6 separate regions of the Homo sapiens genome follow, and regions 1, 2, 3, 5 and 6 are each reported to be linked to region 4. Evidence: microRNA targets listed by miRTarBase, many of them from high-throughput screens and not tested one by one. Region 4 holds a microRNA gene; each other region holds the end of a gene's coding sequence.

What was found. Region 4 holds the annotated microRNA hsa-miR-6890-3p (CCACUGCCUAUGCCCCACAG, at 2,233-2,252, opposite strand). A microRNA usually pairs through its seed, bases 2 to 8, with sites in the 3' UTR of a target mRNA and lowers its output. Matches are read on the target gene's strand: a 7mer-m8 pairs with bases 2 to 8, a 7mer-A1 pairs with bases 2 to 7 and ends in A, and an 8mer does both.
Region 1: the mRNA of NWD1 is a reported target of hsa-miR-6890-3p. Seed matches in the 3' UTR shown: 7mer-A1 at 2,492-2,498 and 7mer-A1 at 2,794-2,800.
Region 2: miRTarBase lists SEMA3E as a target of hsa-miR-6890-3p. Seed matches in the 3' UTR shown: 7mer-A1 at 3,916-3,922.
Region 3: the mRNA of MCTS1 is a reported target of hsa-miR-6890-3p. Seed matches in the 3' UTR shown: 7mer-m8 at 373-379.
Region 5: miRTarBase lists CTCFL as a target of hsa-miR-6890-3p. The part of its 3' UTR that is shown has no 7-base or 8-base seed match.
Region 6: the mRNA of ZNF430 is a reported target of hsa-miR-6890-3p. Seed matches in the 3' UTR shown: 7mer-A1 at 2,240-2,246.

Annotation. Positions count from the first base shown.
Region 1 is chr19:16,814,748-16,818,845 of GRCh38, forward strand. NWD1 (NACHT and WD repeat domain containing 1) reads left to right here. Exons shown (of 19, transcript NM_001007525.5): 19 at 281-3,206. The coding sequence ends at 292. The region is part of intron 2 of LOC124904648 (a long non-coding RNA gene); the gene reads right to left. Among named protein-coding and RNA genes, the nearest start is that of SIN3B, 13 kb to the right of the region's middle. RefSeq lists a silencer at 2,733-2,929.
Region 2 is chr7:83,363,780-83,367,888 of GRCh38, reverse strand. It overlaps SEMA3E (semaphorin 3E), which reads left to right. Exons shown (of 17, transcript NM_012431.3): 17 at 1-4,109. The coding sequence ends at 303. Among named protein-coding and RNA genes, the nearest start is that of PCLO, 200 kb to the right of the region's middle.
Region 3 is chrX:120,611,528-120,615,636 of GRCh38, reverse strand. MCTS1 (MCTS1 re-initiation and release factor) reads right to left here. Exons shown (of 6, transcript NM_014060.3): 6 at 1-3,454. The coding sequence ends at 3,373. Among named protein-coding and RNA genes, the nearest start is that of MCTS1, 9.5 kb to the right of the region's middle.
Region 4 is chr3:49,097,622-49,101,621 of GRCh38, forward strand. MIR6890 (microRNA 6890) reads right to left here and starts at 2,293; the gene lies at 2,233-2,293. It overlaps QARS1 (glutaminyl-tRNA synthetase 1), which reads right to left. Exons shown (of 24, transcript NM_005051.3): 9 at 3,999-4,000; 10 at 3,734-3,820; 11 at 2,954-3,053; 12 at 2,759-2,837; 13 at 2,569-2,677; 14 at 2,340-2,470; 15 at 2,140-2,232; 16 at 1,889-2,026; 17 at 1,723-1,810; 18 at 1,489-1,632; 19 at 1,264-1,368; 20 at 979-1,071; 21 at 732-859; 22 at 571-637; 1 more. RefSeq lists an enhancer at 2,733-3,233.
Region 5 is chr20:57,495,005-57,499,113 of GRCh38, reverse strand. CTCFL (CCCTC-binding factor like) reads left to right here. Exons shown (of 11, transcript NM_001386993.1): 11 at 413-1,948. The coding sequence ends at 564. Among named protein-coding and RNA genes, the nearest start is that of CTCFL, 28 kb to the left of the region's middle. RefSeq lists an enhancer at 204-253.
Region 6 is chr19:21,057,619-21,061,727 of GRCh38, reverse strand. It overlaps ZNF430 (zinc finger protein 430), which reads right to left. Exons shown (of 5, transcript NM_025189.4): 5 at 1,678-4,109. The coding sequence ends at 3,707. Among named protein-coding and RNA genes, the nearest start is that of ZNF714, 23 kb to the left of the region's middle.

The sequences.
Region 1 (4,098 bases), not on the chromosome of region 4:
TAATATTTACTGAGCTCACTCTGGGCCAAAAACCTACACTAAGCACATGACCTGCATGATGCCTTTCAATCTTAAAAATCGCCCTGAGCAGGTGTAGGTTCTGTTATCATTCCCATTGTGCAGATAAAGGAAGAGGGACTCTTTGGCATAATAAATGTCATGCCAAAATTAGTAGAGGGCATAGCAGGAATTTTATTCCATGCAGCCAACTCTGGAATGTGTAGGATTGGACCTCTACACCCCATTTTTCTCATTTGTGTCCTTCTCTTCACCCTTACAGGCACCCTGCTGACAGTCCAGTTTGTCCATGCTGTGGTAAACAGAATCATCCCAACCACCAGTGGCTTCATTGCCCCCACCAGGCATGGTTATCTGATCCGAGAGAATTTCCAGTGCCTTTCAGCAAAAGCCTCACCGCAGGACCCTCTTAAGAACTTCAAGAAGGCAATGTGGATGGTCAAATCCAGGCAGAGAGAGGAGCTAGTTGCAGCTGCAGGAGCTCCCCAGGACTTGGAGTCAGAAAGTGCCCAGGGAAATGAAACCAAATCAAACAAATGCTCACAAGTGTGCCTGATAGTGTAAAAAAATAAAAATAAAAAAACCCTGTGGGGGTATGGGGCTCCAGTGAGTTAGCCCCATTTAATCTAGTTAAAGCAAAAAGAATACGTTTGCTGGTGTATATCTGGACCCATGGCTTCAGATTATGGCTTCAGACCTTGTCTCTTCTCATCTTTCCATTATTCTTTCCTCTTTTTCATTTTCATTCTCAGACTTGCCACCCCCAGGTTAGCAACATGGTGGCCAATATGCTGCTGTCTCCAATTTCAATAGAAAAGAGAGCTTCTCTTTCCCAACAGTCCTAGCCTCAACTCTACTGGTCCCAATTGGCCCATACGCCTAGCCCTAAACCAATTATTATATCTGGGAGAATGCAGAGCTCTAATCGGCTAGACTGATCCAATGTCCACCACTGGGACTGAGAATAGAAGAGATTACTCCTGAGATGCAAACTGGAGTTCTGGTACCAGATGAAGGGGGAACGGATGAATGTGAGATACAGCAAATCACTGATGTGGACCACAGAACCTCACAGTTTATAAAGCTGTAGGTGCTGTCATCTGATCCTCATCACAACTCATACTTTAGGGAGGGCAGGAGTTTCTGTATCTATTTTACAGATGAGGAAACTGAGCCTTGCGGAAGTAGTTATAATTTGATTCAGGTCACAAGTCCAAGGTGCAAGAGCTCTGAGAGTGAGCCTTCTGTCCCATTCCTGTTAGACCTCACTCCAATTTCAGTCTGCAGAGCACAACCATCTCTTCCACAGGCACCACACTCAAATGCTCACAGGAGCTAGTGACTAATCTAGACACTTCCATGCACCTGGGTGAGCAGCAGGGAGAGACAGAGACTGGACATGTGGAAGGCAGAGATTGTGTCTAGGGTGGGTATGAGCAGCCTGACTGTAGCCCAGAATCACCATGGCCAAACAAGCCCACTGCTGTCAGTGCTTCCAGTTGTAATAAGCAAAGCCAGAAATCCAGACTTTTATGCAAAAATGTTCTGACTTTTAAAGTTGGCGATTGGTTGAATTTATATCTATAGTGCATTTGGCATGTGCGTCTTTGGTTAATGAGCTGACTTCAGGACTCACGCTGGCAGTAAAACAATCAACATGTTATAGTTCATCCCTCTCTATTCCTTGGCTCCCAAACTTTTGGGATAAAGATGTGGGTTTTTAATCTTAAAAACTGGAGGCTCTTGGAAGTAGAAAGAGCTGCTGATCTCTCCCTGCTTTGCTTTTGAACTGTCTGCCTTGTGCAAGTTCAACAGTCAAACTGTTTTCATTCCACTTAAGTGGATCTTTCTTCTTTGCCCACAGCCTTCTAAAAGCCCTTCTCAGTCTTCTCAGGCTTTTACTTTAATGCTAGGATAGTCTAAATCTTCAAGGTGGCTATCCCTTCTCCCCTCCGTGGAATTCCTGATAGAGTCTCAATAAAAGCAACCTTAGAAACAGAGGCTTTTGAGCTGAACAAGACCCTACTGCTGTCTTATTCATCCATTTTCCAAACCAGTTTTCCAAGGCAGGTTTTGGTAGTTCTGCAAATGTTAGTGTCAAATTTCATTTAAAAATATTTTAAACTGTAATTTTAAGATGTATGCTTGGATGTATTGGGCAGCAGCTTCTAAGGTGTTGAAGATTACTAAGGTTGGTGCAAAAAGTAACTGTGGTTTTCGCCATTAAAAATATTAAAAATAATGGCAAAAACTGGCTGGGCACAGTGGCTCACACCTGTGGTCCCAGCTCTTTGGAAGGCCGAGGCAGGTGGATCACCTGAGGTCAGGAGTTTGAGACCAGCCTGGACAACATGGTGAAACCCTTCTCTACTAAAAATACAAAAATCAGCCAGGCATGGTGGTGAGTGCCTGTAATCTCAGTTACTCAGGAGGCTGAGTCAGGAGAATCACTTGAACCCGGGAGGCGGAGGTTGCAGTGAGCTGAGATTGTGCCACTGCACTCCAGCCTGGGTGACAGAGCAAGACTCCATCTCATAATAATAATAATAATGGCAAAAGCCTCGGTGGCTCACGCCTGTAATCCCAGCACTTTGGGAGGCTGAGGCGGGTGGATCACTTGAGGCCAGGTGTTCAAGAGCAGCCTGGTCAACATGGTGAAACTCTGTCTCTACTCAAAAATACAAAAATTAGCCTGGTGTGGTGACGTACACCTGTAATTCCAGCTACTTGGGAGGCTGAGGCAGGAGAATGGCTTGAACCCGGGAGGCGGAGGTTGCAGTGAGCCGAGATCGCACCACTGCACTCCAGCATGAGTGACAGAGACTCTGTCTCCAAAAAAAAAAAAAAAAAAAAGTAATGGCAAAAACCACAATTAATTTTGCATCAACCTAATAATTTAGGATTCTTCTGCCATTTTCATTTAACTGATTTAACTGAAGAGCCCAATTAAATTGTGAAGGGAGCCCTGAAAAAATTAGCTACTCTTTGCCACTGCTTCTCTGTGAATCAAGGGCTTACCCAATGCAGAAATAAAGTAGATGTTGAGACCAATTAAGATTTCACCTACAAATTCTGATTTTAAATGCCTGTGTCCATCTCCACAGCCTCAGTGAGAATTGATTGTTTTGTAGATAAATCCTAATTTAAACATTGGAAATGCCTTTTTACTAATAAAATGCTACAACAAATTATTGCTTATATTGGGAGTTTTTGCAGTGTTTATTCATTTGAAAAAGAGTTTGGTTGCTAAGAAAGTTTGACAGTTGGCTGGTCAATGCTTGTAATCCCAGCACTTTGAAAGGCCAAGGTAGAAGGATCACTTGAGCCCAGGAGTTTGAGACCCTGTCTCTCCAAAAAAAAAAAAAAAAATTTTTTTTTAATTAGCTGGGCATGGTGGTGCACACCTGCAGTCCTAGCTACTCAGGGGGCCAAGGTGGGAGGATCACTTGAGCCCAGGAGATCAAGGCTGTAGTTAGCTATGATCGCACCACTGCACTCTAGCCTGGGCAAGAGAGTGAGACCATGTCTCAGAAAAAAAATAAAATAAAATTAAGGGATGCCGAAAAGCTCAGCAATCATGACAAATAATGTTTTCTCTCTCTTTTTTTTCTTGTTTTCTTTTCTTTTGGAAGACAAATAATATTTTGTTATCTTTTTTTTTTTTTTTTGTCAAGGCCTTGCTCTGCTGCCAGACTAGAGTGCAATGGTGCGACCTCGGCTCATTGCACCTCTGACTCCTGGATTCAAGCGATTCTCCTGACTCAGCCTCCTGAGTAGCTGGGACTACAGGCCACCACGCCCAGCTAATTTTTGTATTTTTTGTAGAGACGAGGTTTTGCCATGTTGGCCAAGCTGGCCCTGAACTCCTGACCTCAAGTGATCTGTGCTCCCTTGGCCTCCCAAAGTGCTGGGATTACAGGCATGAGCCACCGTGTGTGGCCTATTATCATATTTTTAAAAATCAAAATGAATTTAAAAATGAATGATGAACAAAACATCAACATTCTATATAAAATTGGTATCTGACCCTGCATTTGCAGGAACTGACCTCACCCTCTTCCTGGCCCTGGGGACATCAAG
Region 2 (4,109 bases), not on the chromosome of region 4:
GAGAAAGTCGAGGATATGTTTAACAAGGACGATGAGGAGGACAGGCATCACAGGATGCCTTGTCCTGCTCAGAGTAGCATCTCGCAGGGAGCAAAACCATGGTACAAGGAATTCTTGCAGCTGATCGGTTATAGCAACTTCCAGAGAGTGGAAGAATACTGCGAGAAAGTATGGTGCACAGATAGAAAGAGGAAAAAGCTTAAAATGTCACCCTCCAAGTGGAAGTATGCCAACCCTCAGGAAAAGAAGCTCCGTTCCAAACCTGAGCATTACCGCCTGCCCAGGCACACGCTGGACTCCTGATGGGGTGAGACTATCTACTGTCTTTTGAAGAATTTATATTTGGAAAGTAAAAAAGTAAAAAAATAAATCATCCAACTTCTTTGCATTACTTAAAAGAGATTTCTGTAATACAGGAATGACTATGAAGGTGTTATAATAAATTATTCTACATACTCATTTGACTGGATAAACTTTACATAAAATTAACTAATTTTTTAAATAAATGCATTGCTTAATGGTTTCTCATTATGTTTATCAAAAAACAACTGTAGCTGTTATTTTCAGTACTTGGCTGCTTTTCTGTGAAAATTATTATTTTACTTTTGGAAGACAAGATTATTAGAATATTGAAGAAAAATTGGAGACTTATAATCATGGTAAATATAAAACTAAATATGTTTTAATATTTCTGAATTTTTCTTTTCCATCACAATGTAAGATATGCAGAATACAAGATACTTTGGCATTCTCATGTGAACTTTCTGTACTCTTTAAGGATTATTTTATTAGTGTTGTTTAAGCCATGAGTGTTAAGTAGCAGGTGTGTTGTGAGTGCTGTAACCCATGAAAGGAAAAATGTCATTCTGAGGCTTGTGCCCTTCGTAAAATATTCATTAAAGTACATTCACACTATTTTTGCTTTATAACACAGTCTTTAATTTTCACTCACTGTGGAAATAAAAACTAAGGTAACTTCTCAGAAAGATATCAAATCTCAGAAAGAATGTCAAATCAGATGAAGTTATAGTTAGGATTCTAACTACTGTAAAAGATTTTTGCTTCCCTCTTGTGGTAAAAAAAATTATATTCTCACACATTTCTTTTTTCTCTACAGACGGATATCTGTTTAGGAAAGATTTGAAAGCAGATTATCAGTAGGTACATGGATACATCAAGTTCATTTGCAGAAACAAATAACTGAAATAAAAAACATGTTAATCCTTGTATCATACTTTAATATGAAAGTATTGTTTATAGATAATTTATCTCACAAGTCAAAAATGAAGATTTTGCAGCACTGAAAATCTATTAAAGCTCCAAATTTTAAGTTTCTAAATAATCTTCGCTGAAATCTAAAATATACTATAACAACCGTGTTTTATTTGTGAAAAAAATATTAAAGTGATTTGCTCTCAAATATCAAATTTTCTTCTCTCTTTTATATTAAGAGACAGAAAATTGTTTCATGAGTTCACTTAACTACTGAGATATTCAGAGCATTTTTACCTCTCTCTTAAATGTTATAAAAAACAATTGTATTTTTAAGAATGTTTATTTATCAAAGTCTTTCCTTCTTCTATTAAATATTTAGCAATTACCTTTCTAAAATATGAAATTTTGTAAGATGTTTTCACCTAAATAAAAATTGAAAGCAAGTGGATTACACAGGAGAACCATTATGAACATTTATTTAGATATTAATCTTAAACAGTGTTTATTTCAGTTTTCAAAGTTAGCTTATAGGTTATACATTTAAGTTAAAGTGCTCATAATCACTTGCAATTTCATTGTAAAATGAACAAATACATAAATATTTTAAGAAAAATTTAAGTTTATTCAGATAAGTCACCATGCTTCAAAAGATCTAAGAAATGCAAATATACTGAAAATTGACATCCTCTGAAAATTCCACTTGCTATTTACCCAAGAATCCACTGGAGGTCATTACTGCCATTAAATAATAACTGAAAAGACTATGTAGTGAAATGTATTTTTAAAAACTATATTCAGTAAAAGCCTGCTCAATTTGGAGAAATAGAACCACAAACACAGATCACAGGGGCCTTACAAAGTTTATGTCTGAACAAATAAGTCAATTAAGTACACTTTATTGAAAATTGCCTTCCATTAACACACAAGAAAGAAAGCAGGATTTTCTCCTGTATCTGAATTTTAAAATTAAAAAGGCAGATAAGACATAAATAGTTATCATTTTAATTGCAATAACACAGACAAGTAGTTAATGATGATAACAATGGTGTAACTTGTAAACTAAATATTTGGTAACTGAAGCAATAGGCAGAGGAAAATAGCTTTTCTATGACACAAGTCATAAGAAGTCCATATACTGAAGAGCGTTTGATTAAAATAAAGTGACTATTAACCAGAAAAGAAACATTTTACATAAAATGCTAAAATTTATTATAGGAAAATAAATCAAACCCAAAGAAAGTTTATTCAATGCTAATTTGAAAGAAAATTGATAAGAAAACTTTGAGGGCCCAAGTCCACAATTTGGTGAGACCACTAAATTTTACATATAATTATACACACACATATGTACATATATATGTATATAATCTTGCTTCCCGCCTGTTTATGGCAGTACTGAAGAGAAATGGGAAAGAAGAGGGAGGGAGAGAGAAAGACGAAGGGAGAGAGAAAGCAGTTTCCAAGGATATGTTTCATGTCCCACCATTTTCTCAGTTTCTCCCTCTCTCTCCCAACACACACACACACACACCCCTCACATACTATAAAATAAATCTTCACTGCCCTATCAAAATACAAATAAATCAATCTATGCTGTTCTGTCCTTCTTGAGAATCTAAAACATACCACAAAAATACATCCCCAGTCTTTTGTTCTGTCTGAGGTTAGAATTAATTCAAATTCAGAATCTGTTGTGAGAAATGCCCAGGCTTTAAAAATTAAAAATGGATGGATCTTCTCTGAACTCAGGGAGGGCACATACTTAGATACCTACAAGACTTGGAGGAATTAAGAGTTCACCCTTCATCTCACCAAATTTTCCCCATTTTTCTCTTTCTTGTAGAAGGAGAGAAACCATGCTCTCTAGCAACATTGAGCAAAAATCATAACCACTCATCTAATTTCTAAGAGGCACCTCCATCGAGGGCCGGTCTCCTGCTTCTTTAGACCTCTTCTATCTTTGTTACAGGAGAGGACCTGTGGATAGACTTAGTTTTGACATAAAACAATGCCCATTCACCTCCTCCTTCAGCACAACGTCACCCATTGGGCAAGAGATCCAGATTTGTTAACAAAAAAGATTTTACTTCGTGATTCCACGTCTATAATTCTATATTGCTAATTTTTTCTTTTGTGTGAATTACTGAATATTTCAGAGCAAAGCTATCAACTTGGAGAAACAGGGATTAAAAATAAGGATAAACACTAATAAGAGCTCTAGAAAAAAGGGAACAGAAAGTCTGCCTGTTTAGTAAGTGGCAATTCCATACATATTTTAGAGTTTTTTCTATCTAAAATTAGTTAAATACTTAGAATGTTTGTAATGAGTGTTCGATATTTGCTATAGGTTTTAGGGTTTTGTAAATCTTCATAGTAATTATAAACATTTGTAAAATTTGTAAAATACTATAAGTCATTTTGAGTGTTGGTGTTAAGCATGAAACAAACAGCAGCTGTTGTCCTTAAAAATGAATTGACCTGGCCGGGCGCGGTGGCTCACGCCTGTAATCCCAGCACTTTGGGAGGCCGAGGCGGGTGGATCATGAGGTCAGGAGATCGAGACCATCCTGGCTAACAAGGTGAAACCCCGTCTCTACTAAAAATACAAAAAATTAGCCGGGCGCGGTGGCGGGCGCCTGTAGTCCCAGCTACTTGGGAGGCTGAGGCAGGAGAATGGCGTGAACCCGGGAAGCGGAGCTTGCAGTGAGCCGAGATTGCGCCACTGCAGTCCGCAGTCCGGCCTGGGCGACAGAGCGAGACTCCGTCTCAAAAAAAAAAAAAAAAAAAAAAAAAAAAAAAAAAAAAAAAAAAAATGAATTGACCTGTGACACCTGTAGCCTAATAAACATATTAAGAAAAGTACTTAGTATTGTATAGATATTTGGATTCCAAGA
Region 3 (4,109 bases), not on the chromosome of region 4:
ATTGGATACAATCTATGGAATATTACTACATTTAGTTCATTTGTAATTTACAATTTTTGATGACTAAAATTGGAAAAGGATTAGTACATTCCTACTGGCTTTACATATTAGTATTGGGCTGTCACCATTACCCAGATTATTTAAAATGTAAATTTTCTTTACTCACTAGATTGGAAGCTCCTTAAGAGCAAGGGCTACTTCTGTATTATTCATCTTCATGCCACGTCACTTAGAACCTAGTAGATACTCAATAAATACCTATTGAGCTGAACTGACCTTGTCTGAGTAAAAGTGAGTCCAATACACAAGTTACTAGATTGTAGGTTGGTTTGACACAAACTTAATTTTGAAACTAAAAATGAACTAAAGACACACTGCCTGAGAGAAGCAGGCTCTCTATCCCTGTATTCCTATTCTCACGAATATAGGTAAACTAAGTTTCCATTAAGCACAGTATCTAAAGATGCTGACACATCTGCTAGTTTAATCTCTTTGAATTGCCTTTCATGTATGACCTAATGTTTAGAAAATGACAAGGATCACACATGTAGAGTGACATCCCTGATTAACAGTGATGAGCAGAGGCCTCAGACCCAGGGGAAGCAGAGAACATACATATTTAGTCCATATCACCAAGGCAACACAGTGTACCTCAGCACAGTAGAAAAACAAGCACAGATGTTGATGTTGAATATTTAAAAAGTGTTCCTTACACCCACTGTAACAGTGGTTAGACACAAAGATGAATTATTTCAAAAACCAAGCTATTAAAAGTTTTTACTTCTCTAATGTATGTATATGTGTGCTTTGTTTTTCATTGCTAATACTCCATAGGCAGTCTTGGTCAAAAAACATTCTCTTAGCAACAAAAATAAAGGTTCAAAGTTTGATTCTGACATAAATGACTTGTATATTCTTTTTAAGAACATAAGGAGCTACAGGCCTCAAATAGGGTGCCTCCTCCCCCAAATAGGGAGACATCTGAATTTGAAGCCAGTAAGTCAGCAAAAAATTAAACTATCTGTTGAAGAAACCCCCCTGGGAGATGACTTACAAATGAGTTCCTGATGAGACTATTTATACTTTCGTGGACCAGGAATAAATAATATGGTAAGCTGCAGAATAAAACTGTCATAACATAAGGAAAACTACATGGAACTTGAAAAGGATATAGGAAATAAAATATCAGGGCACCTCTATGGGCTAGGAAAGAGATGAGATTTTGGCAGAGATAAGCATTCTAATTAATGATGAAGCAGGAAAAATTCTCCAAGTCTTACCTCAGCACAACTGAAATATTACCCCAATTTATCAATCTTCCTTTGCTCATACCTGTGTTTACCAAGTAACTTCCTGTTTCCTAATTGTTTACCATAGGCAGACCTATCACTATGAATTAATACATTTATATTCTAACTGGGGAATCTCCAAGTCTCTCAAGTTTCATCAGTGGGAAATGGTTTCTCAAGCTGAGGGTCAGACCCTGGATCTATGTCCACCTATGTTACATCCTGGGAGACCCAGCTGGAACAGCCAGCCAAATGATCTCTCTCTTTTTGCTATCCACCCTCACCTTTCTCACCAACTTCTAACTGTAACACAGGTCACCACAATCTTGTATATGTCTGTATCCATCTGAAAAATAAAATCACATGTCATATATTGGTAAACAACCAAATGAAGATGGCTAAGACACTAGAATAACAGCAAGGTTATTAGGAAGAAAAATGGTCTTTATCAATAAATAAATCCACAACTGCTCTTTTAACTCCCCAAACAGATTACTGTTCTTACTAAAGCAGGTCCATGTCCCTCATATTCCACTTATAGAAGATATACATTATTTAAGGAGTCTAGTGGGGACCCAAATCCAGATGTTCTGGGCATCTGTTTGGTATGACTTTACTCAAAAGAAGGCACTAAAAAAACTGAACCTGAATCTGATCAATCTTATTTGTTTACAGGATATACAGGAGGCATAAAAACAAGTTAATGACTTCACAGTGATACAATCAACAAAATCCAGAATATGTGTGGAAACTTTAAAGACAAAACAACTAGATTTCTTAAATAATTTAAGGGGGAAAAGAAAAGGTAACTTATAAATTAAACAGACTTCAATAAATAACAACCAAATGCAATGTATGAACCTTGTGTGGTACCTATTTCAAGCAAACCAACAGTTAAAGAGAATTAACAGTCTAGACAGTTGATCATATTAAGAAACAGTTCAACTTTTTAGGTGTGATAATGGTATTGTGGGGTTTTTCTAATTTTTAAAGATACACACTAAAGTAGTTATGACGCCAGGCATGGTGACTCATGCCTATAATCCCAGCACTTTGGGAGGCTGATCACTTGAGGCCAGGAGTTCAAGACCAGCCTGGCCAACTATAAAATATATAAAAATTAGCTGGGCACGGTGGCTCATGCCTGTAATCCCAGCACTTTGGGAGGCAGAGGGGGACGGATCACTTGAGGCCAAGAGTTCAAGACCAGTCTGGCCAACATAGCGAAACCCCATCTCTACCAAAAATACAAAATTAGCCGGGCATGGTGGCACGTGCCTGTAATCCCAGCTACTCAGGAGGCTGAGGCACAAGAATCGCTTGAACCCGGGAGGTGGAGGTTACAGTGAGCCAAGATCGTACCACTGCACTCCAGCCTGGGCAACAGAGCAAGACCCTGTTTCAAAAAAAAAAAAAAAAGAATAAAGTAGTTATGGATGAAATGATAGGATGTCTGGGATTTGCTTCAAAATAATTGGGGGGTGGGGAGAAATAATTGAGGTATAGATGAAATAAGACTGACCATAAACTGAAACTGGGTGATGGATATGGAGAGGTCCATTATACTATTCTCCAGACTTCTTAATATGTTTAGAATTTTCCATTGAAGTTTTTTTTAAAAAAACAATCAACAAAACACACACACACACACACACACACATACACACACACACACACACACACACACGAGAATGAGCACTGCTGGGTCCCCTGGAGTAATAGAATAAAATTCCTAGTCTAGTTTCTAGCCCCATTTAACTAGACAGTTTCTCTAGAGGTCTACCATAAAATGGCAATCCATTGACCAAGTCCTGCTCTTCACTCTTATATCATTAGCCTAAGAAAGGACATTAGTTGTATGAGTTTGCTTACTTACCAGATACCTTTTAATGTCCAAGTTTGCTACCCAATTTTAACTTGAGTTTAAGAAAACTTAAAATAATTTCTGAAGCTAACAGAATTTTAGCATCTGGTGAATTTATTCAGCATAACCACAGGCATTATCTTCATGCTGTCACACACAGACACAAACACAGATACAGCACAATATCCATATTTAGCCCAAGTGCATTCCTTCTGAGGCTCATTTATATGTCTTCATATGCCACAGCCCATCATTTAAATAATGGATATTTTCAATGCCAATTCCTTTGTTGACTTTCTCACTGTAGAAGGAAAAAAAACACATAAACATACTTTTATGCATTTTTATAGTCTTACTCGTGATAAATATAATTCAAAGTATATTGTTATTTTTTAATTATTAAGCCACAAGTAAAGAACTTATTGACATCACAATTACATTGTTGTTTATATTAAACTACATTACTCTGTGGCAGCTCATATCTAAAAGTGATTTTAGTGATCTAACTAGTGGGTCTATAGAACCAGAGTAACAATGTCACAAGACTAGGGGAATATCAAAGTGCTACATTAACCCTGAAACAAAATTAATACCACTAATTTGGTCATCAAATGGGTTCTAAAATTTTTAAATATACTGCCTATGTTTTGATAATATATCTTTACTAGTTCTCTAAATATTCTACATTTCTTGTATTACCAGGTCAGGATATAAGATACTGTGTGGTGGTGAGATATATCACTGTTTTTAAAACTAGCAGTAATGACCAGGTGCAGTGGCTCACACCTGTAATCCCAACACTTTGGGAGGCCGAGGTGGGTGGATCACTTGAGGTCAGGAGTTCGAGACTGGCCTGGCCAACATGGTGAAACCCCATCTCTACTAAAAATACAAAAATTAGCTGGACATTATGGCGCACACCTGTAATCCCAACTACTTGGAAGGCTGAGGCACAA
Region 4 (4,000 bases):
CCATCTCTACTAAAAATACAAAAAATTAGCCGGGTGTGGTGGCAGGCGCCTGTAATCCCAGCTACTCGGGAGGCTGAGGCAGGAGAATCACTTGAACCTGGGAGGCAGAGGTTGCAGTGAGCCGAGATGGTGCCATTGCACTCCAGCCCCGGGCGACAGTGCAAGACTGTCTCAAAAAAAAAGGCAGCCTTCATACAAAATTTTGTGCCTGGAGTTATCCTCAGTGCCAGTTTCCTCACTAGTAGAATATGAATACCAACTCCCTCAGGTGGTGAGGATTAACTAAGGGAATGTATGCAGAGCACTTGGCACAATGAACGGCAGCCACTGTCACTGCTGCAGATGAGGGCAGGTGAGTAAAGTCAAGCACCTTTCCCTGATGGCTGTCTGGATCCACGGAGAAATATCCAAGACGCTCAAACTGGAACTTGTCGAAGGGTTTTGCCAGGGCCACAGAGCAGTCCACTAATGCTGCATCCACCACGTGTAGTGATGCCTGCAGGCAGGGAACTCAGGCAACCATCCAACCAGGGAGGCCTACCTCCCTCACCCCAAACCTCATGAACCTACCAGGTTCAGGTCACTTAAAAATCCACCAGGCACCTCAGTAGGATCTTCAGGGTTCTTGTGCTGGAATCTGCAGCCAAAGTGAAGGTCATACCCCCAGCTGGGCAGCCATAGCAGGCAATGTGCATCTTGTACCTGCCCCCACCCCAGCTCTGTTCACTCACAGTCGCTCATAGAGGCGAACCTCACACATCAAAGGCTGTGACACCCAGTGAATAAAGGCCTTTGGCTTCTCTCCAGCATCTGCCCGTCTGCAGGTCACCTCCAGACTCTCTACACAACCACTGGGGCCCTGGAAGTGGGGGGAGGGGAGCAGCAATTAGACCCGGGAACCACAACCAGGACTGCAGGCTATACTCACATCTTGGCCCCAGCAGGCACTGCAGTAGGAAGGCTGCAGCTGGCTCTCACCTTGACAACATGCTGCAGCTCAATGACGTAGCCTGTATGCCTCAGGCCCACAGGCTGGCCCCAAGCCAGGCGCTTAAATCCTGGCTCTGGCTCCTAGAGATAGGAAGTGGGGTAGACACATGAGGCTGCAAGGGTCAAACAAGTGGGGAAGCTTCCCTACCCCCGTGTCTGGCAAAGATTGGTTCATCTGAAGCAGGAAGTAGATGGACTGACAGAGATGAGGAGATGAAAGGTTCCCAGTACCAGACTCAGCAGCAAACGGGACCCTCCACCCCCACAATTTACCTCCTTGAAGTCAGTCCTCTCAATGAAGACAATGGGTGCAAAGGGAACCTGATGGAAGCCTTTGGTCTCATCAGCTGGGAAGTTGGGCACCTGGATGTCCAAGGACTATAGCAGGAGACAGGAGACAGGTATGAGTCATACTCAGCATTAGGACCCCCATGCCCAGAGCCAAGTGTACCCCCAGCTACACACACACATGTGACACACATGTTGAGGCAGGCCCACCTTGGCAGCAGGAAAGTTGGTGATGATGACCCGTAGTGACTCCAGCACAGCCATGGCTCGTGGGGCTGTGTCATTCAGCACATCACGCACACAGGCTTCTAGAAGATGTGGCTCCATTGTGGTTTGTGCCACAGTCACTCCCACCTGGCAGGAAAGTTCAGCATCAGTCACAGCTACAATCACAAACTGCCACACTCAACCCCCAATGTATCTACCCAACCTGCTGGGCTATACCCGGGCACAGAAGTTGTTGATGGCCTCAGGTGGGAAGCCCCGCCGTCGCAGGGCCGTGAGTGTAAAGAGCCGTGGGTCATCCCAGTCCCTGTGGATAAGAAGGTGGTGAGAAGGCCTTTGGGAGCATATGCCATTAACCTTTCATAAGCCAAACAGCCGCACCTACCGCACAGCACCAGTTGCTACAAGCTGGAGGATCTTCCTCTTAGAGACAACAGCATAGTGCAGGTTGAGGCGGCCATACTCCCACTGCACAGGGCAATAGACGTCCAGTGCATTGCAAAGCCAGAAGTAGGAAGAGCGTCTGGGGTGGGAGAGTAGGGTTAGCACTGGCCAGCTCTGGAACCAGGCAGAGACCACAGGAAGGGCTGCTGGAATTCCACTGGCCCTACCACCCCATGGACCCAGCTCCCTCACCGGGCCTGGAATTCCTTGGTGCAGAGTGAGTGAGTGATGTGCTCGATGGAGTCACAGAGGCAGTGTGTGTAGTCGTAGGTGGGATAGATGCACCTGTGGGGCATAGGCAGTGGGCCCTACCATCCAGCCCTACTCTGCCCTACCCCATGGCCCATCGCCCTGCTCGGCAGCCCCACCACCCCACCCCATTCTACACCCACCATTTGTCCCCTGTGCGGTGGTGTGGTGTATACTTGACTCGATAGGCTACAGGGTCCATCTTGCCATCCTCCATCACCAGCTTCATCCGTAGTGTGGCCTCGCCCTCTGAAAACTTGCCCTTGCGCATTGCCTGAGGGGAACAAGGACTCAGGCTGTCTCTAAGCACAGGAGCATCTCATTCTCAGCACCTTGGCCCACCCAAACCCAGATGCTCCTCTAGGACCCCACCTCAAAGAGCAGCAGTGACTCCTCCATGGGACGGTCTCTCCAGGGTGAAGGCAGAGTATTATGGCCTTTGAGCTCCTCTCCTCGCTGGTGGCACACATAAGCCAGACCCCTGTGGGGAAGCGGTGTGAGTGCCCAGCATGGCTGTGACCTAGTCAGTCTGCCTGGCTCTACGTCATGGCCCTGGCCTTACCTGCGGATGAGCTCCACAGCCCACGCATATAGCTGGTCAAAATAGTCAGACGCATATGTGACTTTGTAAGGTGTGTAGCCTGGGGCAAAATGAAACAAAGTATGAGCAGCCAGCCACAAACACCCAGTGGGCAGGCCATGGCCCAAGGAGAGGCCCACTAACCACCAGCCCTTCTAGGCTTTGCCTAGTCCATACCTAGCCAGGCTACCATGTCACAGATGGCCGTGAAGAACTTTGCTTCCTCCTTCTCAGGGTTGGTGTCATCAAAACGCAGAAAACAGATGCCATTGTTGGCCTAGGAAAGTTGCACCATCTGTGAACTCCCACATCATCCATCAGCCCCACAATCCTGTTTATCAAACTAGGATATTCACAGAGCACTCTCATGTCAGAATTTTCTTTTTTTTTGAGATGGAGTCTTGATTATCTTGCACCATCTTGGCTCACTGCAGCCTCCACCTCCTGGGTTTCTCCTGCCTCAGCTTCCCAGTAGCTGAAACTACAAGCGTGTGCCACCATGGCCAGCTAACTTTTGTATTTTTAGTAGAGATGGGGTTTCACCATGTTGGCCAGATTGGTTTCGAACTCCTGACCTCAAGTGATCCACCCACTTTAGCCTCCCGAAGTGTTGAGATTACAGGCGTGAGCCACCCAACCCGGACTCATGTCAGAATTAAAAATGTCTTCAAGAGCTTCTCTCACCTTCCTGTATCTAACCTAGCATCTTTCTAAGCCTAGGGACTGCACTGGCAACTCCCCCAAATTTGAACTCACTGACTCCTCAGAGGGAGGGAGCTATTTATTCCAATAAGCTCAATAGATTCCTAGGTATCTGTCACACATGTGGTTCCTTTCCATGGCCTCTGCCCACCTGGGTACATTATTGGGAGCAGACAGCAAGGCAGGGATATGGTATCCACTCATGGGAACAGCAAGTGGTCATCTTGCTTGCCAGGTCCCTAGACACATGCTTACCTTGGCATAGCCAAAGTTGAAATTGATGGCTTTGGCATGTCCAATATGCAGGATTCCATTGGGTTCTGGCGGGAACCGGGTACGTACCTAAAATAAGGGGGATGGGAAAAGAGAAATAAAGTCTGAGCTCAGATGACCTTAAAGAAACAGATGTTCCCTCCCAGGAAGGCCATGGTGATGGGTGAGATGGGGCAGTATGGACGCAGCCCAGGCACTCAGGCAGGTGTTTGATGGCACAAGCTCACATGGCCACATCCCCACACACCT
Region 5 (4,109 bases), not on the chromosome of region 4:
CCAGCTGGGAATGACTGTGTCCCCCCCCCACCCCCCCCCCGTCACCTTCAGGGGACACTGGCAATGTCTGGAGACATTTTTATGGTTTTTGCAGCTGGAGAGGAGGGTGCTACTGGCATCTAGTGGTAGAGGCCAGGGTCGCTGCTAACATCCTACAGTGCCCAGAACAGCGCCCTGCCCCCAGCAGACAGCTCTCTGGCCCCAAACGTCTGTAGCGCTGAGGCTAAGAAGCCCTGACTGAAGGCAGTAGTTGAGATCAGAATAGTACCATCTTATCAATTAGATTGTTTTCTAACATGCTTGCTGCCGTGTTCAAATTTAAGTGATGGTTTCCAAAATATATTTGCACAGTTTATAAATTCCAATTCCTTAGCTTTCTGATAAATTTGCTCATCCTGGACTTTTTCTCAAGAAGCTGCTGCTGAGGAGGCTTCCACCACGAAGGGAGAACAGTTCCCAGGAGAGATGTTTCCTGTCGCCTGCAGAGAAACCACAGCCAGAGTCAAAGAGGAAGTGGATGAAGGCGTGACCTGTGAAATGCTCCTCAACACGATGGATAAGTGAGAGGGATTCGGGTTGCGTGTTCACTGCCCCCAATTCCTAAAGCAAGTTAGAAGTTTTTAGCATTTAAGGTGTGAAATGCTCCTCAACACGATGGATAAGTGAGAGAGAGTCAGGTTGCATGTTCACTGCCCCTAATTCCTAAAGCAAGTTAGAAATTTTTAGCATTTTCTTTGAAACAATTAAGTTCATGACAATGGATGACACAAGTTTGAGGTAGTGTCTAGAATTGTTCTCCTGTTTGTAGCTGGATATTTCAAAGAAACATTGCAGGTATTTTATAAAAGTTTTAAACCTTGAATGAGAGGGTAACACCTCAAACCTATGGATTCATTCACTTGATATTGGCAAGGTGGCCCACAATGAGTGAGTAGTGATTTTTGGATATTTCAAAATAGTCTAGACCAGCTAGTGCTTCCACAGTCAAAGCTGGACATTTTTATGTTGCATTATATACACCCATGATATTTCTAATAATATATGGTTTTAAACATTAAAGACAAATGTTTTTATACAAATGAATTTTCTACAAAATTTAAAGCTACCATAATGCTTTTAATTAGTTCTAAATTCAACCAAAAAATGTTTTACTCTTATAAAAAGGAAAACTGAGTAGGAAATGAAATACTAGATTAGACTAGAAAATAAGGAATAAATCGATTTTACTTTGGTATAGGAGCAAGGTTCACCTTTAGATTTTTGTATTCTCTTTTAATTATGCTCCTTGGCAGGTATGAAATTGCCCTGGTTACATTCCATTATTGCTTATTAGTATTTCACTCCATAACCCTTTTTTCTGCTAAAACTACTCTTTTTATATTTGTAAAATAATTGGCAGAGTGAGAAGAAACATAAAATCAGATAAGGCAAATGTGTACCTGTAAGGAATTTGTACTTTTTCATAATGCCCAGTGATTAGTGAGTATTTCCCTTTTGCCAGTTGACAAGATTTTTCCACCCTCGAGCAGCGTGAGAGATGCCTCTTTAACACTTGAAATTCATTTCTATCTGGATACAGAGGCAGATTTTTCTTCATTGCTTAGTTGAGCAGTTTGTTTTGCTGCCAACCTGTCTCCACCCCTGTATTTCAAGATCATTGATAAGCCCTAAATTCAAATTCTTAAGATATGGACCTTTTATTGAAAATATCACAAGTTCAGAATCCCTATACAATGTGAATATGTGGAAATAATTTCCCAGCAGGAAGAGCATTATATTCTCTTTGTACCAGCAAATTAATTTAACTCAACTCACATGAGATTTAAATTCTGTGGGCTGTAGTATGCCATCATTGTGACTGAATTTGTGCAATGGTTTCTTAATTTTTTTACTGTTATTTAAAGATGTTTTACATAATTCAATAAAATGAAATGACTTAAAATTGCTATATTTGTTATATGTCAGCATTGGTCTTTAAAAACATCTTCTTTGTCTGGAGAGAATGTGGAGAAATTGGAACCGTTGTGCACTGTTGGTGGGAATGTTAAATGGTGCAGCCACTGGGGAAAGCAGTATGGCAGTTTCTCAAAAAAAAAAAAAAAAAAATGGAAATAGCATTAGTATCTGACCCACCAATCCCACTTCCAGATATACCGTATACCCAGAAGAACTAAAAGCAGAGTCTGAAAGAGGTATTTGCACACCTATGTTCATAGCAGCATTTTTCAAAATAGTCAAAGATGAAAACAACCCAAATTCCATGGACGGGTGAATGGGTAAACAAAATGTGGTATATACATGCAGTGGAATATTATGTAGCCTTCAAAAGGAGGGAGACCCTCACACATGCTACAACATGGGGGAACCTTGAGGACGTTATGCTGAGTGAAATCAGCTAGTCACAAAAGGACAAGTATTATATGATCTTACTTATAGGAGGTATCTAGAACAGTCAGAGTCATAGAGACAGACGGTAAAGTGATGTTTGCCAAGCACTGAGGGGTGAGGGAGAATGGAGAGTTAGTGTTTAGTGGACACAGTTTATTTGGGATGAAGAAAGAGTTCTGGAGATCAGTCATGGTGATGGCCACACAACAGTGTGAATCTACCTAATCATTCCACTGAACCATACATTTAAAAATAGCTAAAATGGTAAATTTTATGTTGTGTTAGTCCTTTCTCACATTGCTATAAAGAAATACCTGAAACTGGGTAATTTATAAAGAAAAGAGTTTTAATTGACTCATAGTTCCGCAGGCTGTACAGGAAGGATGATGTTGGTATCTGCCTGGCTTCTGGGGAGGCCTCAGGAAACTTACAATCAAGGCAGAAGGCGAAGAGGGAGTAGGCGCGTCACATGGTGAAAGCAGGAGCGAGAGAGGGGGAGGCGCCACACTCCTCTGAACGACCAGATTCCTTGAGAACCGCCACTGTCATGAGGACAGCACCAAGCGGATGGTGCTAAATCATTCCTAAGAAACCGCCCCCGTGATCCAGTCACCTCCTACCAGGCCCCACCTCCAACACTGGGGATTACAATTCAACATGAGCTTTGGCCAGGGACAAATATCCAAACTATATCATGTATTTTACTACAACCAAATGTATGTTAATTTCAAAAACAGATAACATAAATATGTTTGAAAACGCAAGCCAAGTTGGTATCTAAACACTGTTTTAAATAAATAAATAAAACTCCTAGGCCGGGTGCAGTGGCTCACTCCTGTAATCCCAGCACTATGGGAGGCCGAGGCAGGTGGATGACCTGAGGTCAGGAGTTTGAGGCCAGCTTGGCCAACATAGTGAAATCCCATCTCTGTTAAAAATATAAAATTTAGCCGGGCGTGATGGCAGGTGCCTGTAATCCCAGCTACTTGGGGGGCGGAGGCAGGAGAATCACTTGAACCCGGGAGGCGGAGGTTGCAGTGAGCCGAGATTGCGCCACTGCACTCCAGCCTGGGCAATAGAGTGGGACTCCGTCTCAAGACGAAAGCTCCTATAAGCACACTTTTATAAATAGTTGCAGTGTTTCGTGTGTGCAACACCTGTTGAGATGTAGAACAAAATTCAGATGAGATGATCAATACCTACTCAGTTACGTGCGTGACTCTCACCCACACCTGGCAAGAAGGTGAAACACCTGGTCCTCAAGTGCAGTTAGTGCTTTTGATACCAAAATAGATGCAGTGACAATAGTGCCCGCAAGAGGGCAGTCGCTTCTGTCTTTTCCGATATTGAGACAGGTTCACTATTCGAGAGTAGGAAGCACGGAAAGTTATAGCAAAGTCTTGGCGATTTTATTAATTCCGCGATACAGAACGAGAACATTTTTTCCTTGGCAAGGAAGAGAAGGGACCTTTGCAAAACCTGGGAGTGAGGACACCAGTTGGCTCTGAGTTCGTGAATGCTTGGTGAGTGACATGCTTTTGCTTAAAATAGTTTTGAGATCCAGCAGGAAATAATTCCGGAATGTACACCTCTTGCACAGTGTAACATCTCTGTTTTGCAGGGAGGGGGTGTTTAAATTACAACATTGTTTGACAACAGTTTTACTATATAAAGGATGGCTTTTAAACAAACCTAAGACCTGGCTGATGCATGTTAACAGC
Region 6 (4,109 bases), not on the chromosome of region 4:
ATCAGCTGTATTTCTTCACTACTAATATTTTCTATCTCTGACTTGAAGTTACAAACTAACTTTAGCAGAAATGTTTATGGCTTTTTCTGGAGCATGTTACACACCAAGAACTGCTATATATGCTTTCCACATTTACATGTAAAAACATCTTCATGACTTACTAAGCTTCCCTTGTATTTACCTGAACAATTTGACTCCATAAATAAATTTACTTTGTCAATTATAAAAAGTAAAAAGAACAATAACTAAAGAATAGTAAGCTTATATAGGGTTCTCCAATTGAAAACAAAATGGAGTGTTCTAGCTAAATAAAATGTAACTTAATATACTAATTGTGGAATTACATATAAAATTATTTTGTATGCACATTTCATAAAAATTATTCTTATACTCACATTCCAGCTCACATAATGAATATTTCATAAACTATAAAATAAATATACAAAATACCAAAAAGTAGGGGTCTATCATGAGTACCAGGCAAGTATAAACAGAATTTGCATGGGGAGATTCCGAAGTATAAGGCATAGATTATACAGTAATAAATTCAATACAAAGCAGAGAGTATATGTTTGCTTTTGCATTTTTGAGGTTTTTAGTTTTCTAGTAGTCACCTTGTTAAAATGACTTGTTTTGTTCCTATATTGCTCTTTTTTTTTCTGAAAGTAGGGACAAACTCATATTCCATAGTTTTCTTACAACTAAGATTTATCTTTAGACTAATATATATTTAACTCTATGTAAATCAAAACTAAAAGTTTGTATGTGTTTGTAGGCAGACAGGCCACATGTTCAAAAATATATGTAAGAAAATTTTAATAATATTTATTCAGGACTCAGAAATGTATGGATTTTATTTATACTTGCATATTTTTTATTATGACCATAAAAATAACCCTGTAACCGATAACAATTGTACATTTTAAAATAACTAAAAGTGTAGAACTGAATTGTTTGTAATACAAAGGATAAATTATTGCTAGAAGTGATGGATACCCCATTTGCCCTGATGTGATTATTATATATGGTACTCCTGTATCAAAATATGCCATATATGGCATAAATATATACTCATATTATGTACCCACAAAAATTTTAAAAATAAATTTAAATAATTGAAAAAGAAAAATTTAACCTACAGAAGCAATATTCTTTAACTAATTTGCAGTTTAAACCCACTGACAAAAGAGATTACTCAAGATGTTAATCCACTATGTTGCCAAATAGTATATTGTTACCATCTTTTTTTTTTTTTTTGAAACAGAGTTTCACTCTTTCACCCAGGTGCAGTGCCGCGATCTTGGCTCACTGCAACCTCCACCTTCTGGTTTTAAGCGATTCTTCTGCCTCAGCCTCCCAAGTAGCTGGGATTGCAGGCGCCAGCCACCACAACTGGCTAATTTTTGTATTTTTAGTAGAGACGGGGTTTCACCACGTTGGCCAGGCTGGTCTTGAACTCCTGACCTCGTGATTCATCCACCTCAGCCTCCCGAAGTGCTAGGATTACAGGTGTGAACCACTACGCCTGGCCCCTTATTGTTATTATCTTTCATCTATACCTTTAAGTAAAGTGGAACAGGTTAAAGTTCGTGGCATAATAACACTTCATTGAATGCACAATAGTATTTAACATGTTAAAAATATTGGATTAAAATATTAACCACACATAACCTAACATTTTTAAAATACACTGGATTTTATTATACAAAAGTACAATTAGTACAATAATATACTAATTTATTTTCATTTAATTTTAAATAAAATTAAAAATGTTCTCACAACGCAAAATATTACTCTGAACACCTACCTAATGCATTATTCAATATAAATTAACCATAAAGAGCCTCTTCACTTAATTTTTCATCATGCATCTTACATTTTAATGTCCTTACTCTTTCATAGAAAAGATCATAAATAATGGCCACCTAATAAAAAAGACTCATGTTTTTAATGCAGCAATAACTGATCACATGCTTTCACATGTGAATACAACTGGAATAAAGAAACAGTAGGAAATATTTTGAGAGTTGAATTACATCATTATTTACAAAAAATCTGTAATTTTTTCAAGAAATAAAGTATACTTCAAACGTAATAACTCTGCAAAAAGCCCTTCTACTCCTTTTAAAGTTATATACAAATAATTTTTCTACCAACTTTAGTTGTTTTTTTTTTTTTTTTTTTGAAATGGAGTTTCACTCTTGTTGCCCAGGCTGGAGTGCAATGGCGCAATTTCAGTTCACTGCACTCTCCACCTCCCGGGTTCAAGCAATTCTCCTGCCTCAGCCTCTCGAGTAGCTGTGATTACAGGCATACACCACCACAGCTGGCTAATTTTGTATTTTTAGTAGAGCCGTGTTTTCTCCATGTTAGTCAGGCTGGTCTCAAACTCCTGACCTCAGGTGATCCACCCTTCTCGGCCTCCCAAAGTGCTGGATTACAGGTGTGAGCCACTGCACCTGGCCCCAACTTCAGTTTTATTTTCTATACTCAGCACTCTGATTTAGTATAATATCTGAAGTCTCAGTGCCTTATATATTTCTACAGTAAATTCTCTGATATTTACATAGACTTAATTTTGGATTAAATATTTTCATTTTTACTGCATCTGCAAAAATATATTTTAGTATGAACTCTGGTGTCTTCTAAGCTGTACTTTTTGAAAAAGTGTTTTTTAAAATTTATTAAATTTGCAAAGTTTTTCTTCAATATAAATTCCCTGATGTTGAACAAAGTTTGAGCAACTACTTCAGAGTTTTCTTCTAGTACAAAATGTGTACAATAAAATCTGTGATACAAATAAAGGTACTACAACCCTCTTCACATTTGTAGTGTTCATCTTCAAAATAAATACCTTCTTCGCTTTAAAGGTTTATATTTTCTGAAAGATCTTTTGACAGTAATTGCACTTATATTCCTTTTATTAAGTATGAACTCTCCAGTGGTAAGATGTGAATAGATATTAATGGCTTTTTCATGGTCTTTATATTTGTACAATTTTTTTCAAGTATAAATGCTCTCCTGTGCAATAAGGTGTGAGCATTCATTAAAAGTTTTGCCACACTGTTCACACTTGTAGAAGTTTTCTTCAGTATGAACTATCTTACCTATAATGAAGTGTGACAACCATTTAAAGGCCTTGTCACATTCTTTACATTTCTAGGATTTCTCACCAGTATGATTTTTTATGTTTAAAAGTTTTAGGTGTTGTCAAAAGCACTGTCACATCTTTCAAGTTTGTAGAGTTTCTTTTCAGTATGAATTATCTTTTTTTTTTTTTTCTGAGATGGAGTGCCACTCTTGTTGCCCAGGCTGGAGTGCAATGGCGCGATCTCAGCTCACTTCAACCTCTGCCTCCCGGGTTCAAGCAATTCTCCTGCCTCAGCCTCCCGAGTAGCTGGGATTACAGGCATGCACCACTACGCATGGCTAATTTTGTATTTTTAGTAGAGACAGGATTTCACCATGTTGGTCAGGCTGGTCTCGAACTCCCAACCTCATGTAATTCACCCGTCTCAGCCTCCCAAAGTGCTGGGATTACAGGTGTGAGCCACCGCACCCAGCCAGAATTATCTTATGTCTGGTAAGAATTGAGGACTTGTTGAAGGCTTTGCCATATTCTTCACACTCATAGGGTTCCTCTTCAGTATGAATGTTCTTATGTTTAGTAAGAATTCAGGACGGGTTAGAGGCTTTGCCACAATCTTCACATTTGTAGGGTTTCTCTCCAGTATGAATTACTTTGTTCAATAAGGTTTGAGGACTGGTTGAAAGCTTTGCCGTATTCTTCACAGTTGTAGGGTTTCTCTCCAGTATGAATTACCTTATGTTTAGTAAGAGTTGAAGACTGGCTAAAGGCTTTATCACATTCTAGGTATTTGTAAGATGTATCTCCAATATGAGTTATCTTATGTTTAGTAAGGTTTGAGAATTGGTTAAAAGCTTTGCCACATTCTTCACATTTGTAGGGTTTCTCTCCAGAATGAATTACCTTATGTGCAGTAAGTTTTGGGGACCGGTTAAAGGCTTTGCCACATTCTTCACATTTGTAGGGTTTCTCTCCAGTATGAATTATCTTATGTGCAGTAAGGTTTGAGGACTCATTAAAA